2 separate regions of the Homo sapiens genome follow, and region 1 is linked to region 2. Evidence: fine-mapped expression QTL. A gene starts in region 2. The other region holds a variant in brackets. All regions are shown on one strand. Distances are from middle to middle. Region 1 has its middle 27 kb from the start of C15orf39. Region 2 holds the start of SCAMP5 (secretory carrier membrane protein 5).

Evidence for each region. PIP is the estimated chance that this variant, and not a neighbour inherited with it, causes the effect. A credible set is the group of variants that fine-mapping cannot tell apart.
Region 1: its variant is the best candidate, but not a certain one, in a credible set for the expression of SCAMP5 in whole blood (INTERVAL, PIP 0.61).

What each region holds. Positions count from the first base shown.
Region 1 is chr15:75,170,986-75,179,312 of GRCh38, reverse strand. No RefSeq gene overlaps it. Among named protein-coding and RNA genes, the nearest start is that of C15orf39, 27 kb to the left of the region's middle. RefSeq lists enhancers at 1,681-1,780, 1,337-1,896. The variant G/A (reference allele first, on the strand shown) is at 3,745.
Region 2 is chr15:74,992,021-75,000,347 of GRCh38, reverse strand. SCAMP5 (secretory carrier membrane protein 5) reads right to left here and starts at 4,785. Exons shown (of 7, transcript NM_138967.4): 1 at 4,675-4,785.

The DNA of each region.
Region 1 (8,327 bases), 180 kb before region 2:
GCTCCGTGGTAGATTGAGTTGTTGATGTTGAGCAGAAATCTCCCTCCCGCCTAAGTGGGCAACCCAACATCTTTCCCAAAGCACTGGCACAAACCCGCCGTGAGGGTGGCTGGCAGGAACTATTGTTGAATTTTACCTAGAGGGTCCGTGTCCAGCAGCAAGTGGGGACAGGAGAATGCTAGGATACAAGGTCGTCCTTGCTGTGCCTTGGCCCAGCGAGTGGTCTCCATGTCCCCTCAGAGGGAGGGTGCATTCTGGCACGTGGCTGAGCGGGTACCCACCAAAACCCTAACGTAGAAAGCCCGGCTCCAGTCACAGCCTGCCTGGGACTGGCCCTGGCCCTGGCCCTGGCTGCCGCTCTCCTTCCCCCAGCTGAATCCTAATAGGAGGCACAGAATCCTAATACAGCCTCCAGGTTTCACAGATGGGGAAACCGAGGCGCGGTTCCCGCGCGTCCACGTTCAGCCCATGCCCGGGCTGAACCCAATTGCAACAAAGTCCCAGGGGCCTCCGGAGAAAACGTGGGAGCCTTCCCGCCCTGGCGGGCCCTTGCCAGCTCTCTGCTTCTCGGACACAGGCGGCGGGCGGGCGCGGGCCTCAGGGACCCGGCCGCTGGGGCGGGAGTCTCCAGGGAACCGTGATGTAACCCAGCGCCCCGGCTTGCAGGAGCGGCCCCCAGGCGCCGCCCGTGGCTTGTTTACTCGACTAGGGGCGCGGGGTGGAGTCGCGGCCACCGGCCCCGCCCCACCCCCCACAGTGCCCGCCCCTGCACCTCCCCCCAACCCCTCCACCCCAACGGCTGGACGGAGCCCCAGGGGCTGTTGGAGGCTTGCGGGTGTTGGTCCTGTTTCTGCCTTAGATGTTCCAAGACCTGGCGCAGTGGCCGAGCCACACGGGTGACTCTGAAAGGGCCTGAGTCCCCCACGAGCTCTCTCAGTCACGGCCCCCAAAGTAGCTCAAAAGAACATTCCAACGAAGTAAAATCCCGGAGCTTGCTATGCCTACGCAGCCTCAGGACAAGGGCCCTCCTATCCGGTCCCCCAGTCGCCGCATCTTCCCGGCCTGTCTCCTGCTCCTGTCTCCTGTTCTGTGATAGCCGGCACCGTGGGGAGCCCTTTTTTGGACTCCCCAAAAGTCTGCCTCAGGGGACAAAAACAGCATTTCCCAGGGGCTCTACTACTCCTGGCACAGAGAAAGAGAGTTTGCTCTTGGCTAGGCAAAGTTAACACCCTGAAGGGCTGAAGGGCAGAACTGCTTAGGGGTTGGGGCTCCTCACTTAGGGCAGCGATTCCCAGTCCTGGGCTCTTTCCAGCCCCAAGCCAGGGCCTGGCTCACTGGGGCCAGTGGGGAACAGCAGGGCTCCCTGCACACACAGCACCCTCTCGAACTGGGCTCTCCAGCCAGACACAGGCCTCCCACCCCTAGGGGAGAGCAAGAACAAGGCAGTGTGTGGCCAGATGGTAATGGATGGGAACAGATCTAGAGGGTGCAATGCTGATGCCAGCAAAAACCCCAACAGCTGTGACCTGTGCCCACTGCCAGGGTTTTCTCATCTAGACTCTCCATTCCCTGGTGAGGCAGGCAGGCTGCCTACAGATGAGGGAGCTGAGGCTCAGAGAGAGCAGGGGAGCCTGAGGTCACCCTAGGAAGTTGGCGACAGCTGCAACTAGGACCTAAACCCGTGTGCTAGTCTCTCATGCGCTTTTTTTTTTTTAAATAGACAGTACAATATGAACATACTTCATGCAATCTTGAGAGCCCAAGAGCCCTGTAACTGGGAGCAGTCCAGGAGGGCTTCCTGGATAAGAGGCCAGGCCTCAGCTAGATGAGGGAGGAGGGGCACGATTTGGAGAGAGAGGTGTGAGGTGAGAAGGCTTCTCTGAGGTGGGAAATAGGAAGAAAGGGGATGGGCTGGGTGGGATAGCACTCACCTGTAATCCCAGCACTTTGGGAGGCTGGGGAAGGGGATTGTTTCAGACCAGTTTGGGCAATATAGTGAGACCACCATCTCTACCAAAAATTAAAAATGTGGCACATGCCTGTGGTCCCAGCTACCTGAGAGGCTGACATGGGAGGATTGCTTGGGCCCTGGAGGTCAAGGCTGTAATGAGCCATGATCGTGCCACTGCACTCCTGTCTGGGTGACAGAGTGAGACCTTGTCTCAAAAAAAAGAAGAAAGGGGAGGTTAACCTGGGAAGAGAACAGCCCGGGAGCTGCAGGAAGTAAGGGTGCAAAAGATCTCACCAAAGAAGAGGGTCTGGGGGTCAGTCAGGGAGGAGGCCAGCCAGGGTCAAGAGAAGTTCCTGGGGAGGGGGTGTGGTGGGCAGATGCAGGATTGGAGACTACTGGTATTGGGGGCAGCATTTCCAGTCCAGCCTTCCACTGCAGACTCTAGCATTTCCCAGCCCTCTGGCTTTGGGTATGTTATCTTCCCTCTGTGGGCCTCAGTTTCCTCATTTATAAGATGGAGATCAGCTCCCCACGCTGCCCATGGCTGAGAAGGTGCTTTGTGACTGGCTTTACATACTTGAGGGTGTGAGGGACTCATATACCAATGTGACGGATAGGCTGGAGTCAGGGGAGACCTCTCCATGGGGCTTCTCCCTGCCATGTATTCCCTGCCCTTACAGAGAGAGGCCTCATACACTTGTTCCCTCCAACTCTGCCGGCATGTTGGGGAGGCCCCTAGGCTTAGTAAATATTTGTGTCTCTGCTCTAGTTGGTGGCTGCTGGAACATTCTGTCCTGCTTCTCATTCATCTAGGCTTCTGCCTCAGGCTGTGAAGTTACTGCAAGAGATCAAGAGCCCAGGGTGGGAACTTCTAGGTCCTTCGCCAGCCCCCCTCCTGCCTACTCCTGAGCCCCAGTTTATTCCTGGAGTTCAGAACCCTGTGCGAGGCCCTGTGCACTTTGGGAGGCTAAGGCAGGTGGATCACCTGAGGTCAGGAGTTCGAGACCAGCCTGGCCAACGTGGTGAAACCCCATCTCTACTAAAAATACAAAAATTAGCCAGGCGTGGTGGCATGTGCCTATAGTCATAGTCCCAGCTACTTGGGAGGGCAAGGCAGGAGAATTGCTTGAACCTGGGAGGTGGAGGTTGCCAGTGAGCCGAGATTGTGCCATTGCACTCCAGCCTGGGCAACAGAGTGAGACTCCGTTTCAAAAAAAAAAAAAAAGAAAGAAAGAAAAAAAAAGAAAAAAAAAGAAAGAAAGGAAAGGAAGAGAGAGAGAGAGACATGTGACTCTAAAGAACCTCTCTGGGCATGGTGGCTCATGCCTGTAATCCCAGCACTTTGGGAGCCCAAGATAGGAGGATTGCTTAAGCCCAGGAGTTTGAGAACAACCTGGGCAACATAGTGAGACCCTATCTCTAGTTTTAAAAAGAACACCTCTCCTTTTGCTGTGAGAAGAGCTAGGACATTGGGTCCGAATGTTAGCTCAGTAGCTGGCCTGATGTGTGGTTTTGGTTGAGTCCCACTACTTTTCTGAGCTTATTTCCTCATTCCTGAAAAGGTGGTGAAATGGTTTGGACCAGTGCCTGGCACTTACTAAGCTGTTTTCTTCCTTAGCCTTCCTTCCATGCCTCTGCACTGTCTTCCTAGAAGTTTGGGCCTGCCCTATTTAACCAATTAAATTAACAAGGATAAGAAGTTTCCGACTTTTATTGGGTACTCTATACAGTGCTATGCTGGTAAATGTTAAAAACCAGCTCTACATACATTTTTTTAAAGTTCTAGGCCAGGC[G/A]CAGTGGCTCATGCCTATAATCCCAGCATTCTGGGAGGCCGAGGCAGGTGGATCACCTGAGGTCAGGAGTTCAAGACTAGTCTGATCAATATGGTGAAACCCCATCTCTACTAAAAATACAAAAATTAGCTGGGTGTTCAAGGTGGCACGCACCTGTAGTCCTAGCTACTCAAAAGGCTGAGACAGGAGAATCACTTGAATCTGAGAGGCAGAGGTTGCAGTGAGCTGAGATCACACCACCGCACTCCAGCCTGGGCAATAGAGTGAGACTACATCTAAAATAAAATAAAATAAAATAAAAGTTCTGTTTTGCAGTGTTTGCCCTATTTCCGTGCTGTTAATACTCACCATGGCCATTTCTTTTTTTCTTTTTTTCTGAGACAAGTTTCGCTCTTGTTGCCTAGGCCGGAGTGCAATGGCAAGATCTTGGCTTACTCCAACCTCAACCTCCTGGGTTCAAGCTATTCTCCTGCCTCAGCCTGCTGAGTAGCTGGGACTACAAGCGTCCACCACCACACCCAGCTAATTTTCGTATTTTAGTAGAGACGGGTTCGCCACATTGGCCAGGCTGGTCTCGAACTCCTGACATCAGATGATCCACCAGCCTCAGCCTCCCAAAGTGCTGGAATTATAGACGTGAGCTACCGCGCCCGGCCCACCGTGGCCATTTCAAAGCTACCAACATGACATCACAGAAAGTGAACTGTGACCTAGTGAGAGCTGGCAGGCCACAACACAGCACTGCCTGTGGGATTTGCTATATAATTTGCAAGGCCCAATACAAAATGAAATTGCAGGTTCCCTGTTCAAAATGCATGGGGGAATGTCTTCCCTTTTTTCCATGATGCCTCTCACAACCTGTCATGGTGTTGCGTTTTTTGGTAATTTACACTTAATGTTCTTACTCCCTCCAGCTCGGGACACGCACAGGGCAAGAGCGGACCTTCACAGATCGGGGAGGTGGCACATGTGGAACCTAGTAACTACCAGGCTCCCCGTTCCAGCAGCCACCAGACAGACTTATTGGGAAGTAGAGGCAGGCATCTTCCCTTCCTAAAGGCCCACAGTCCCAACTATGTCCCAACCTCGTAGCCAGGAGGCACTAGGGACTGGGATAGGAGTGGAGAGAGGCTCACCCTCCCTAAGCCACCCACTGAACATGGCATATTGCTGCCAGCCTGGGACAGGACGGCCACCACCTGTCCGCTCTGACACTGTGGGGTGCATGTACTTGGCCCTGGCGCACCCACCCCCACCCAGGCCCTCAAGGGAGCAAAGGGTGGCAGTGTTGCAGGGCAGGGGTGACAAGGGGGCTGGGTGGCACTGGGGCACCAGAGGTTGAGGGAGTGGATAGCCAAGAACTCATTCCAGGGAAGCATGGAGGTGGCAGGAGGCATGACCATGCTTCAGGCCAAGATTCCAAGCCCTCAGCACGTGCTACATGACCCCATTGGACTTCACTTACAAAAGACAAATTTGGCTGGGCATGATGGCTTACACTTGTAATCCCAGCACTCTGGGAGGCCGAGACAGGTGGATCACCTGAGGTCAGGAGTTCAAGACCAGCCTGGCCAAGATGGTGAAACCCCGTTTCTACTGAAAATACAAAAATTAGCCGGGCATGGTGGCACGTGCCTGTAATCCCAGCTCCAGCTACTCAGAGGCTGAGGCAGGATAATCATTTGAACCCAGGAGGCAGAGGTTGCAGTGAGCCAAGATTGCGCCACTGCACTCCAGCCTGGGTGACAGAGCAAGACTCTGTCTCAAAAAAAAAAAAAAAAAAAAGACAAATTCAAAGTTAAATTACGAAGAATTTCAAAGTACTGCTTGGTCCTAGTGCATTCAACCAAGCTTGGTTGGGCCCTTCCAAGTGCAGGGCTCTGTCTGTGGGCTGCACTGAAGGGGGCCTTACTATATGTGTTATCCAAGTGAGATAAGAATGGGTGGGCAGGTTGGCTGGGCATGGTGGCACATGCTTGTAATCCCAGCACTTTGGGAGGCCGAGGCGGGTGAATCAGCTGAGGTCAGGAGATCGAGACCAGCCTGATTAACATGGTGAAACCCTGTCTCTACTAAAAATACAAAAATTAGCCAGGCGTGATGGCATGCACCTATAATTCCAGCTACTCAGGAGGCTAAGGCAGGAGAATTGCTTGAACCCGGGAGGCGGAGGTTGCAGTGAGCCGAGATTGCACCACGGCACTCCAGCCTGGGTGACAGAGTGAGACTCCATCTCAAAAAAAAAAAAAAAAAGAGTGGCCCAGCAGGATCATTCCTTAGGAACTTTAGTCTTTTAGTCCCCACATTAGAGAAACCTGGGTGCCTTGAGGGAAGTAAAGGCCAGGTGACTCACCTCCCTCCTCAGAAATCTCCCCTACTTTGGGGAAGCATGCACGCAACTTGGCAAAAACTTGTCAAACAAAAAAATACAGCCTTTGTTACAGAAATTTATCATCCACCATCTGCACCATTGCTTCCATTTTTATATCTGCATGGTGCCGCTTTTCTCTTTTTGAGAAATACTTTCCAAAAATTGACCTTTTGTTTCTAAACAGGTGAAAGATAACATTTTGAAACACTCAATTCACTGCCCATCTGTGCAATGTATAATTGGTTGCATTCGTTGGTCTAGAGAATACCCACAACTGTAAAAGTTTTCTCCATACTGATATTTGTCCTGGGGATTGAAGCCAAATTATTGACCTAGTTTTAGTAAATCTAGAACAACAGCTTTTTGGCTTAAGAAATATTTCCATGTATCAAGAATAATCATTCCCTTGACATGAATGAGTGATGGCCCAGGCATCAACTTCCTGACAAAGGGAATTTGAAAGGGGCGCTTCTCAAACCACGCTGGCCCCAGTCCAGGAAGGTATAGTTTCCATTTCTCAGGAGTGGCCAGATGCTCTGGGCCAGCTGCTGGAAGGGGTGTCTCACCAGGGAAGAGGGCTGCAAATGTGGGCAGAGGACGAGACGCCCCCACAGCCTGTTGATGCAAGCAGCCCCACTCTGCATACCCCCAGCTCTGTCCAGATGGTAATCCCGCTGCTGGGAGCCCAGGCCCAGCCCATGGCTCTCAGGACTGTGTTGCATTGTGAAAGAAGGGCAGGAGCCTCACTGGGGCAGGTCAGCACTCACAGAAACATACAGACATACAGGCAGGAAGCAGCCGGGGAACCTTGTCCTGAAGTGTGTGCAGGTGCAGTGGACACAAACCACCTCCATGGCATGTTGATAAAAGCCACATGGTGAAGGAATAGTGGGCCTTCTCCAGCATGTTCTTCTATAGGTTTCCCCACAGAAATTCAAACCATAGGCTGGGCGCCATGGCGCATGCCTGTAATCCCAGCACTTTGGGAGGCTAAAGCTGGAAAGATTGTTTGAGCCCAGGAGTTGAAGACCAGCCTAAGCAACATAGTGAGAGCCCCCCTCTCTACAAACATTTTTTTTTTTTAATTAGCCGGCCATGGTGGCACATGCCTGTAGTCCTAGCTACTGGGGAGGCTAAGGCTGGGGGATCACTTGAACCTGAGAGGTCAAAGTTGCAGTGAGCCGTGGCCATGCCACTGTACTCCAGCCTGGGCAACAGAGCGAGACCCTGTCTCAAAAAAAAAGAAAAAAATAAGAGAGAAACTCAAACCATAGGCTGTTTGAGTCTAAACCTGGCCCTGTGTACTCCTTAGTGATTTTGGGCAAATCCCAGGGCGTATCTGAGCCTCACTTTCTCCATGTGTAAAATGGGAACATGATGCATATCTTCAGGATTGAGTTGAGTATTAAACAAGTTGCCTGTGTTTATGTTCATGTGTAGATGTTGGACACAGAGCTGGCGCTCAATACCACAGGATGGAAACAGGGTGGCTATTATTATCATTAGCAATCAGATAGTAGAGAGAAGGTCTGACTCACTTCTGTGTGCTTTTTCTGGTACACAGGATGTGGTACTGGGAAATGTGGATGGAACTCTTGGGCCTTGGCGGGCTGTGTTGAGAGAGTGGTTTGTGGCGACATGGTAGGGAAAAGTAGGTGACTGTGCTGGGCCTTTGCTGGCCTTCTTCCCCAGGAAACAGAACTGTGGGGGGCAGGGACGGTGGCGATGTGGAGGAAGCTCATCCTTAGCCAGCCCCCTCATTTCATAGATGGAGAAACTGTGTGTCAACCCATGATGAACTCATTACACCAACCTCTACTGGCCTCAGAGTAATTTGTGGAACTCCAAAATTTTGGAGCCCCAAAAACTGGAGATGCAAACCCTGGGTGCCTGTTCAGATTCCCCCAGCAATCTGCTTCATTTCTCTTGATTGGCATAAGACCAGTGCCAGGTCACTCCTCCGTTTTTAGAACTGGATAACATTCCACATCAAAAAAGGTATGAAACTGGCTACTGAGGAGTTCGGTGATGAAACACAAAAGTATGGATGAGTTAGCTCCCCGCACCTGCCAGGTGAAACCTGACCTATGAGAAACAGGAGATGGGAAGGAACTGGGAAGGTAAGTTCTCCCTCCTTTTTCTCTCCTTGGACTGCTCCAAGGTGCAGTTCCCTGCATCCCTCTGGACAAGTCCCCATGCAGAGCGACATGCC
Region 2 (8,327 bases):
CCTGTAGTCCCAGCTACTCAGGAGGCTGAGGTGGGAGGATTGTGAGCCCAGGAGTTGGATGCTACAATGAGCTATGATTGCACCTGTGAATAGTCACTGCACTACAGCCTGGACAACATAGTGAGACCTCATCTCTAAACTAATTAGTTAATTAATATGTTGCTTTTTAGCTATCTGTAAAAATATATGCAATTAAAAAAAAAATCTAAGTGCATAAAGTAGAAAAGTCTTCCCAAAATCCACTTTCTCAGATGCCACCCCTTTAACAGTCTGATCTTTAGGTTTGGTGGATTTTGTTGGCTTTCATTTTTAACGTATATAGAATCATATATGACAAAAATGAGATCATTCCACACATCCTGTTTTATAACCTGTTTTTTTCCACTCAACAATATCTCGTGAAAGTTTTTCATGTTAATGAATACAGATCTATCTCAATCTTTTTAATGACTGGTCGACTGGGTCAACAATATCCATGGCCATGAAGCAGTCAGGTGACAAGTTGATATGGCAATCAGGAAGTGTTTTATTTTATTTATTTATTTTTGAGACAGCGTCTCTCTCTGTCAGCAGGCTGGAGTGCAGTGGCGCGATCTCGGCCCACTGCAACCTCCGTCTCCTGGGTTCAAGCAATTCCCCTGCCTCAGCCTCCCGAGTAGCTGGGACTACAGGTGCGCACCACCATGCCTGGCTAACTTTTGTGTTTTTTTATTTTTGTTTTTGTTTGGTTTGTTTTTGTTTTTGTTTTTGTTTTGAGATGGAGTCTCGCTCTGTCGCCCAGGCTGGAGGGCAGTGGTGCGATCTCGGCTCACTGCAAGCTCCGCCTCGGGAAAACATGGGGGTGGTTCCACCTCCCCCACACACACCCCAACCACCCTCTACATGAGCAAAGGGCCTGGGGAGAGTAGTCCAGTTTGGAATACTCCTCCCATGGAATAGAAAGGGGAACTGATGGGAATGAGGAGAGGGGTTTCTATAAGTGATGAAGGGATGGCTGAGACTGGAGACCCTTCCTGGCAGCTCGGGTGACACACAGGCAAAGTGGCAAAGTGGTTGAGGGCATGGAGTTCAGAAAGAACACGGAAGAGGCAATTCATGAGATGGAGAAAATGGAGGTGTCTGAGAACTAGAGGTCTCCTTGAGGTCAGAGCACATAAAGCATTAGTTAGACTGTGGTCAGAGAGAAATACTAGAGTTTAAGATTTCAGAGGTGGCCACATGCCAATGAGGACCACATTCAGATGTAGTTGGTTAAAATGGTGACTGAAAGAGGCACTACCTCCCCTGAGACAATGGGACATGGAGTGGGAGACTGTGGTCCAGCACTAAAGACCTCCAGGAAAACAAGGAAGCAGAGGGAGAGGAGAAAACAACTAGAACATAGGGGCCTCAAAGGAGGAGTCTTCTCCCTAACCGGGCTCCAGCCTAACCCCTGTCCCTGGTCCCAGACAATCTCCCAAAAGTCTGCTTACAGTTCCAGAGAAGTCAGTGCAGCAAAGTATGAATAATTCAGAGCAGAAACCAGAGCAGAGGGCAAAGCTGCCTTGTTTGTATATAAAGGTTAGGGCAGAGAGAATCTGGGGCTTGAGAGGGTGGTAAAAGACTAGGGTCACAGAAATGGAAGGCTCCAGGCTTCTCTGCCCTTGTTTCTGGGAAGCCTTTGAAATGGGGGGTGGGGGGTTGGAGGGGAAGACAGCAATCACTGGCCTCTGCAAACCAAAGTTCTTTTTTTTTTTTTTTTTGAGATGGAGTTTCACTCTGTTGCCCAGGCTGGAGTGCAGTGGCACGATCTCAGCTAACTACAACCTCCTCCACCCAAGTTCGAACTATTCTCCTGCCTCAGCTTCCCTAGTAACTGGGATTACAGGCGTGCACCACCATGCCTGGCTAATTTTTGTATTTTTACTAGAGACACGGTTTCACCATGTTGGCCAGGCTGGTCTCGAACTCCTGACCTCAGGTGATCCACCCGCCTCGGCCTCCCCAAGTGCTGGGATTACAGGCATGAGCCACCGCGCCGGCCAAACCAAAGTTCTTAGACTACAAAACAGAAGAATTAGCAATCTGCTCAACTGATAATCTTTTATAATGGGGATAAGGGCTACATATCCCTCCAAAGATGTAGGCCTAGGGAAACACCTTAATTATCAATAAGATAGCAGTTACTACCTGAATTTTGTTCATGAAACCCTAACTATAATGTATTCCATTCCTTATTGTGAAGCTAGGACAGAAGCCCCCACAGTGGGGAGACTGAGGCCTCTGGCAGCAGACGAGGGTCAAGCCTGGCTTCAGATCAGGCCAGAGTCCTGGGGCTAACTCCAGGGCTCCCTGCTCACCAGTATGGGCCCCTCATCCCTGGCACAGAAATGGTGATTCCTTTTTGCTGCCCAGAGCCAACCTGCTAAGATGGAAGTTTCCCCCTCCTGCTCTACCTCCAATCCCCTCATCCCACTCCTAGCCCCATCTTCTGCCCTGAAATCCCAGAACTATGAATAATCCTCAGAAAACAGCAGTCTCCTGGCCATGCTGTCCCTGTCCTACTGATGACTATTCAGTAGCCTCCTACAGATCTTTGCCTGGCATTCAAGGCTTTGTGCCAGTCAGCTACAAACCTCCCTCCCACCACCTTTGGCTGCTCACAGGTTGACCTGCCTCCTACACTCCCAGCCTCATGCAGGAGATCATCTCTAGCCGCCCCCTCTGCTTCCAGTGCCCCTAAATTGGCAGCACTATCAGCTCCTCTAAGTCCTGCTACCTTCTCACATCCCACCCCTTCTGGGAAGCCTTTCCAAAAATCGCTGCTCTGCATCCCGCTGCATACATTTTGAGTCAGTCATTGGGCACTAAGTGTTCACGTCTTCTCCCATAATCTCCTCACTCCCTCCTGGATGGAGTTTCCAGGAGGGACCCAGCACAGAGCACAGTCAATCCATATACTTGCTTAAGACTTGGACACTTTCCCAATGGGTGGGAGGGAGGCAATTAACGCCCTCCCCCAATCAGATTAAGCCCAAAGCTGCTGTCAAACCTGCTGTATCACACTTCCTCCAGGAAACCTTCCGAAACTCCTGGCTGGCAGCAGGGAAGGAAGTGCAGCCTGTAAAGGAAATGCTGTGGGGGGCAAGGGGTGGGGATAGGGACAGGGAGGCAGAGGGATAGGGGAGGAAAGGAAAAGGAAGAGGGAGAAGAAAGGGGGGATGCTCTAAACTAGAACAAGGAGCATCCTCAAGGGAGGTCACTACTTAGTCCTATTATTTCATCTCTAGAGAAAGGTGCTAGAAAGAGATGCCCAGAGAGGGGAGGTGACTTGGGGAACTTGCTTGGAGGTGGCCACTCAGGAAACGGTTAAAGAAACAGCCACAGAGCCCAAGGTCTCTCTCTAGAACTCCCCTCCTGGGACCCCACTAACTCTCCAAGGGGTTTGCTAAACCTAAGACCCTCTTTCAGGGGCCCATTCACCAGAGACAGCCCCCTCTCAGCTCTAGAGACTTTGCCCTAAGGCTCACCAAGCCCAGAACAAACCTAAGTTAGCAAGACCTGTGTAGCCCCAAACAAAATCTCTCTGCCAATCATGCCCCTGCAAGAACCATCTCCCTCTTTCAGAGCCCTGCTCCGTGAGGCAGAACATGTAGGGGACAGGTTGCAAATTTCTCCAGACTCCACCACCCCATGGGCAGTCACATGGCTGAGCTCCCAGGCTCAGCCCCCAACAGCTGTGCTCGTTTTCATCCCTGTGCCTTTGCCCATACATTCTCCTGGAATGCCCTCTCTTGCCTCTCCTCCCACCCAAATCCCATCACCTCTGGAAGTCTCCTATTCGCTAGCTGTCGCCTCCCTTTCTCTCTGTGTCCCTGGGAAAGTCTGCCAGGCCCTCACTGATCTCCCCATCGGGAAGCTGGGACATTACTTGTTTAAGCCGCCTGTGACAGTGAATGCTCAGTCCGAGTCTCTACTTGGTTCCCCCAACCCACAGACCAGGAGCTCCCCGAGGCGGAGGACAAGGATCGGTTCACAAACACCTCACCTCCATCCTCGTGACCTCCGGCCAGCGTTGAAATGAGCCAAATCCGGCGCCCCCAACTCACCACCCAAAGCCCTGATGGAGCCCGCCTGGTGGCCTGGGCCAGCGCGCCCGTCGCCTCGCAACCCTGGGGCGGCTGAGGTCCGCCATCCAAAGGTCGGCCGCCCGAGGGAGGTGAGGGAAGTCAACCCGGGTCCACCTGCAGGCGCTAGTTGGAAGGAAAGGCCCAAAGGAAGCCACGGGCACCCCCTTCCAGTCGCCCCCATCCCCGGCTGCGCACGCCATCTCCAGAAGGCCGGTTTCCAGGGAACGCCAGGTGGGGCTGGCGGGGGGGATGGAGGGCCCAAAGCTCAGGCTCCAGATCCAGGGTCTGACGTCACCCAAAGGCCCAGTTCCCTCTGCGGGAGCCACAGATGGGAATGGGGGGGCTTGGGGGGCTCGGGGGGCCTGGGTGCGCCCTGAGCGCTCTCCCCCAGCCCCAAACAGTAAAGGTCACCTCCACTCCCACCTCTCCAGCAGTTCGGCCTTCTTCCTGCATCCAAAGGTGAAGTGTAGGAGGAACAAAGCTGCAGCCAGCGACCCCCACACCTCTCGCCCCGCGCCCAGCTTCCCTTCAAAGCTCTCCTCCCAGCCTTCATGCCCAGACTCACCTGCCGCGGCCGTTCGGCTGCCGAAAGGCCGCAGCGCTGCGCTGAGCTGCGCTGCACCCGAGCGATGCGGCGCGGAGCCGGCCGCGAGCCGCTCCGGGGCTGGGGGCGGGGAGCGCGCGCGCGCGCGCGCGCGCCCGAGGCCGTCTCTGCGCGCGCCCGCGCCGCCACTGCCTGCAGCAGTCACTCTCGCGAGACTTCCGCTCTGCTCCTAAGGCTGCTCCTCCTGAGCTCGCGAGAAGGACGACCCGGCCGCCCCGGCATCTTCCAGGAGCTGTCCGAGGTGCTAGTTCCCGGGCCCCGGCCGGATCAGGTGGTTGACGGGCACCTCAGGGACAAGAGCCTGGCGTGTAGGTGGAAGGAAGAGACCCAGAGATGGGAGCCTGGCACCAGCAGCCAGAGCCTCAGCTTCCATATCTGTAAACTGGGGAGAATAACCTCCTATACCTATGCCAGGAGCCTCTGGGACGTGCCAGAAAGGAGTGAGAAAGAGCTGAAAGCAGGAGAGTGTGGTGACTGCGGAAGGTCCTTCAGATCTGCAGGCGCAGGGGGAAAGAGAGAACAGAGGACGGAAGATCGGAGATGATATTCAGAGAGGCAAGGACACAGATCCACGGAAAGACGACATAGGAGGACGAGAAAGAAGAGCTGCAAACAGAGACAGAGACACACGGAGAGAGAGACTGAGATGAGAGCTCAAGGCCTGGAGAGAAAAAAGACATGGAAAGATAAGATAGGTAAGGGAGCATAATGAAGCAAGAAAGAGGCAAGAAATAGAGACAAATTACGCAAAGGAGCAGAGAGAGAGAGAGAGAGAGAGGAGAGGCTTAGAAAAAGAAAGAGACTCAGAAAAAGGAATGAAAGAGACAGTGATATGCAGAGATGAATACCAAGAGAGAGTAGAGGCAAGGGTAAATGTTTAAAAACCCAGAGCTTTGGAGGGTTGAGAGAGACCCACTTGGAGAGATGGGCTGGGAGTGAAGACAGGATTTTATTGTGATTGGTGTTTACATAGTAAACCTCCGTGGGATCTCTACAGGCAGGGCCAGGGCCACTGTCTGTCCTGCCAGCCAATTGCTCCTTCCCCTACACCATACACCCACCCTCCACCCCCCACCCACACCATCCTAGGCCTGGAAGGGGGCCTCAGTGGGTGGGAGACACTGCAGGGATTCTTTGCCTAGAATAAGGGCCCATTGTCTGGCTCCATCCTGCCAGGAGTGGGGCCTCACTCCCACAGCTGGCATGAAAAGGGGGTGGCAGTGAAAAAAGGCAGACAAGAACTAGTGTGGCAGAGGGGAAAAGGAGGGAGAGAGCCTCGGTGCCTGGGAAGGGCTGAGCAGGAAGCATCATCCTGCCACCAGGCCAACCAGGAAGGAAGGGTCCTGGGCTTCGGGGCAGGACAACTGGGTTCTGTGTCAGTCCTGTCCCTGGTTGACCCACATGCTGTCTCTCCCTGCTATAATGCAAGCCAAGGCTGATTTACAGAGCTGTGGAGAGCAGCCAATGAGATGACAACTGGGAACCTGTCGAAGTTATCAAGTGTGGCTGCTACAGGGAAAATGTTGGGAGTCCATGTGGGCCTCAGGAAAGATATAGGGGTTCACATAGGCCTTTAGGAGAGAGATCTGAGGTCCACACTGGGATCCACAAGGAAGATGTCTGGAAACCACATGGAATTTATAGGAGATATCTTGTGGTTCATGTAGGTCCTACAAGGGAAATATTGGGGTTCCCGTCTGATGACCACGGACAATTTTTCTCCACTCAGAAGAATCAGAAGGGTCTCCTATTTGATAAACAACTAACGTAGGAAGAGTGAGCAGGTCCAAAGTCAGAAGCCCACCTTTGTCCCAGTAGATTGTACCTTTCCTATTCAGGTAAATGGAAGGGAACAATGATCACTTAAACAAACGTTTACTTAATAGGCATTTGCTGGTTACCTACCATGAGAAGAAGCATACAGCAGTGGTTAAGAATATCAACCTAGAAGGCAGACCTTGCCCCTTCCCTGCAGTGTGAATTTGAGAAGGTACTAATCCTCACTGAACCTTAGTTTTCCACATATGTAAAATAAGGATGGTGATAATGGGACCCGTGTCTTAGGGTTCCTGCAAGGATGAAATGAATTAATACATGCAGACACATGTAACATATGGGACTGCCTGGTACACAGTAAGTATTTAATGATCTGTAAATAGATGGATAAAACAATTTTTAAAAATTAAAAATAAAGTATTTAAGCCAGGCACGGTGGGTCACGCCTATAATCCCAGCACTTTGGGAGGCCAAGGCAGGCGAATCACTTGAGGTCAGGAGTTCGAGACCAGCCTGGCCAACATGGTGAAACTTCATCTCTGCTAAAAATACAGAAATAGCCAGCCATGGTGGTGTGCACCTGTAATCCCAGCTACTCAGGAGGCTGAGGCACAAGAATCCCTTGAACCCAGGAGGTGGAGGTTGCAGTGAGCCTAGATGACGCCACTGCACTCCAGCCTAGGCGACAGACCAAGACTTCCTCTCAAAAAAATAAATAAATAAAGTATTTAAAGGTGCTAGCTCAAACTGCGTGGCAGGCACTGGAGACATGTCTTTGTTGTAGTGGAGGGCAGGGGTGAGAGAGCCTGTGCCAAACCATGCAGTAACACATTTCAAGCTTCTTTGCAGATGTGGAGAATGTCACATCTGCTCATATGCCATTACTCAAAGCAAGTCACATGGGTAAGCCCAAAATTAATTCATGGGGGTCAGGGAGGTATGCTACCCATACAGGATGCCAGATAAGTCACATGACAAATGGTGGGGACATTTAATCCCATTGCAGAGGGAGCAAGTAACTGGGAACAGGAACCCAATCAATCAATGTCCCACAGGGCCAGCTCCAGGCTGCTTATCTTTCCCTGCCTAGCTATGCCTGAATGAGGCATGTCCATCCAAGAGTCTCTGGGAGAATATTTATGTTACAGGCCAGTAAACGAATAAAAATAGAAGTATTTACTGAACTTTTAATGTCTGAGTGAAATGCTAAACTGCATGACCATCCTAAGAAATAAGTGCTATTGGGCCGGGCGCAGTGGCTCACACCTCTAATCCCAGCACTTTGGGAGGCCAAGGCGGGTGAATCACAAGGTCAAGAGATCGAGACCATCCTGGCTAATACGGTGAAACCCGGTCTCTACTGAAAATACAAAAAATTAGCCGAGCATGAGAGCGTGTGCCTGTAGTCCCAGCTGCTGGGAGGCTGAGGCAGGAGAATGGCATGAACCCAGGAGGCGGAGCTTGCAGTGAGCCGAGATCCCGCCACTGCACTCCAGCCTGGGCGACAGAGCGAGACTCGGTCTCAAAAAAAAAAAAAAAGAAAGAAAGAAAGAAGTGATACTATCCATATTCTATAGATGAGCCAAGTGAAATTCAGAGAGGTAAAGTGATCTGCCCAAGGAAATTGGATGGATAGATCTAAGAAATAAAAGAACCACTATCTTTAGGCTGGGTATCCCCAGAGGCAGACACTGAGATAAGGATGTTCATATAAATGGTCCATTTGAGAGATGATTCCGTGGAGCACTAGTAGGAGAGAGGGGGAGTGAAACAAACAAATGAAGAAAAGCAATATAGGGTGCAATAATCAGCAGATTACCACTGTGGACAAATGGGGC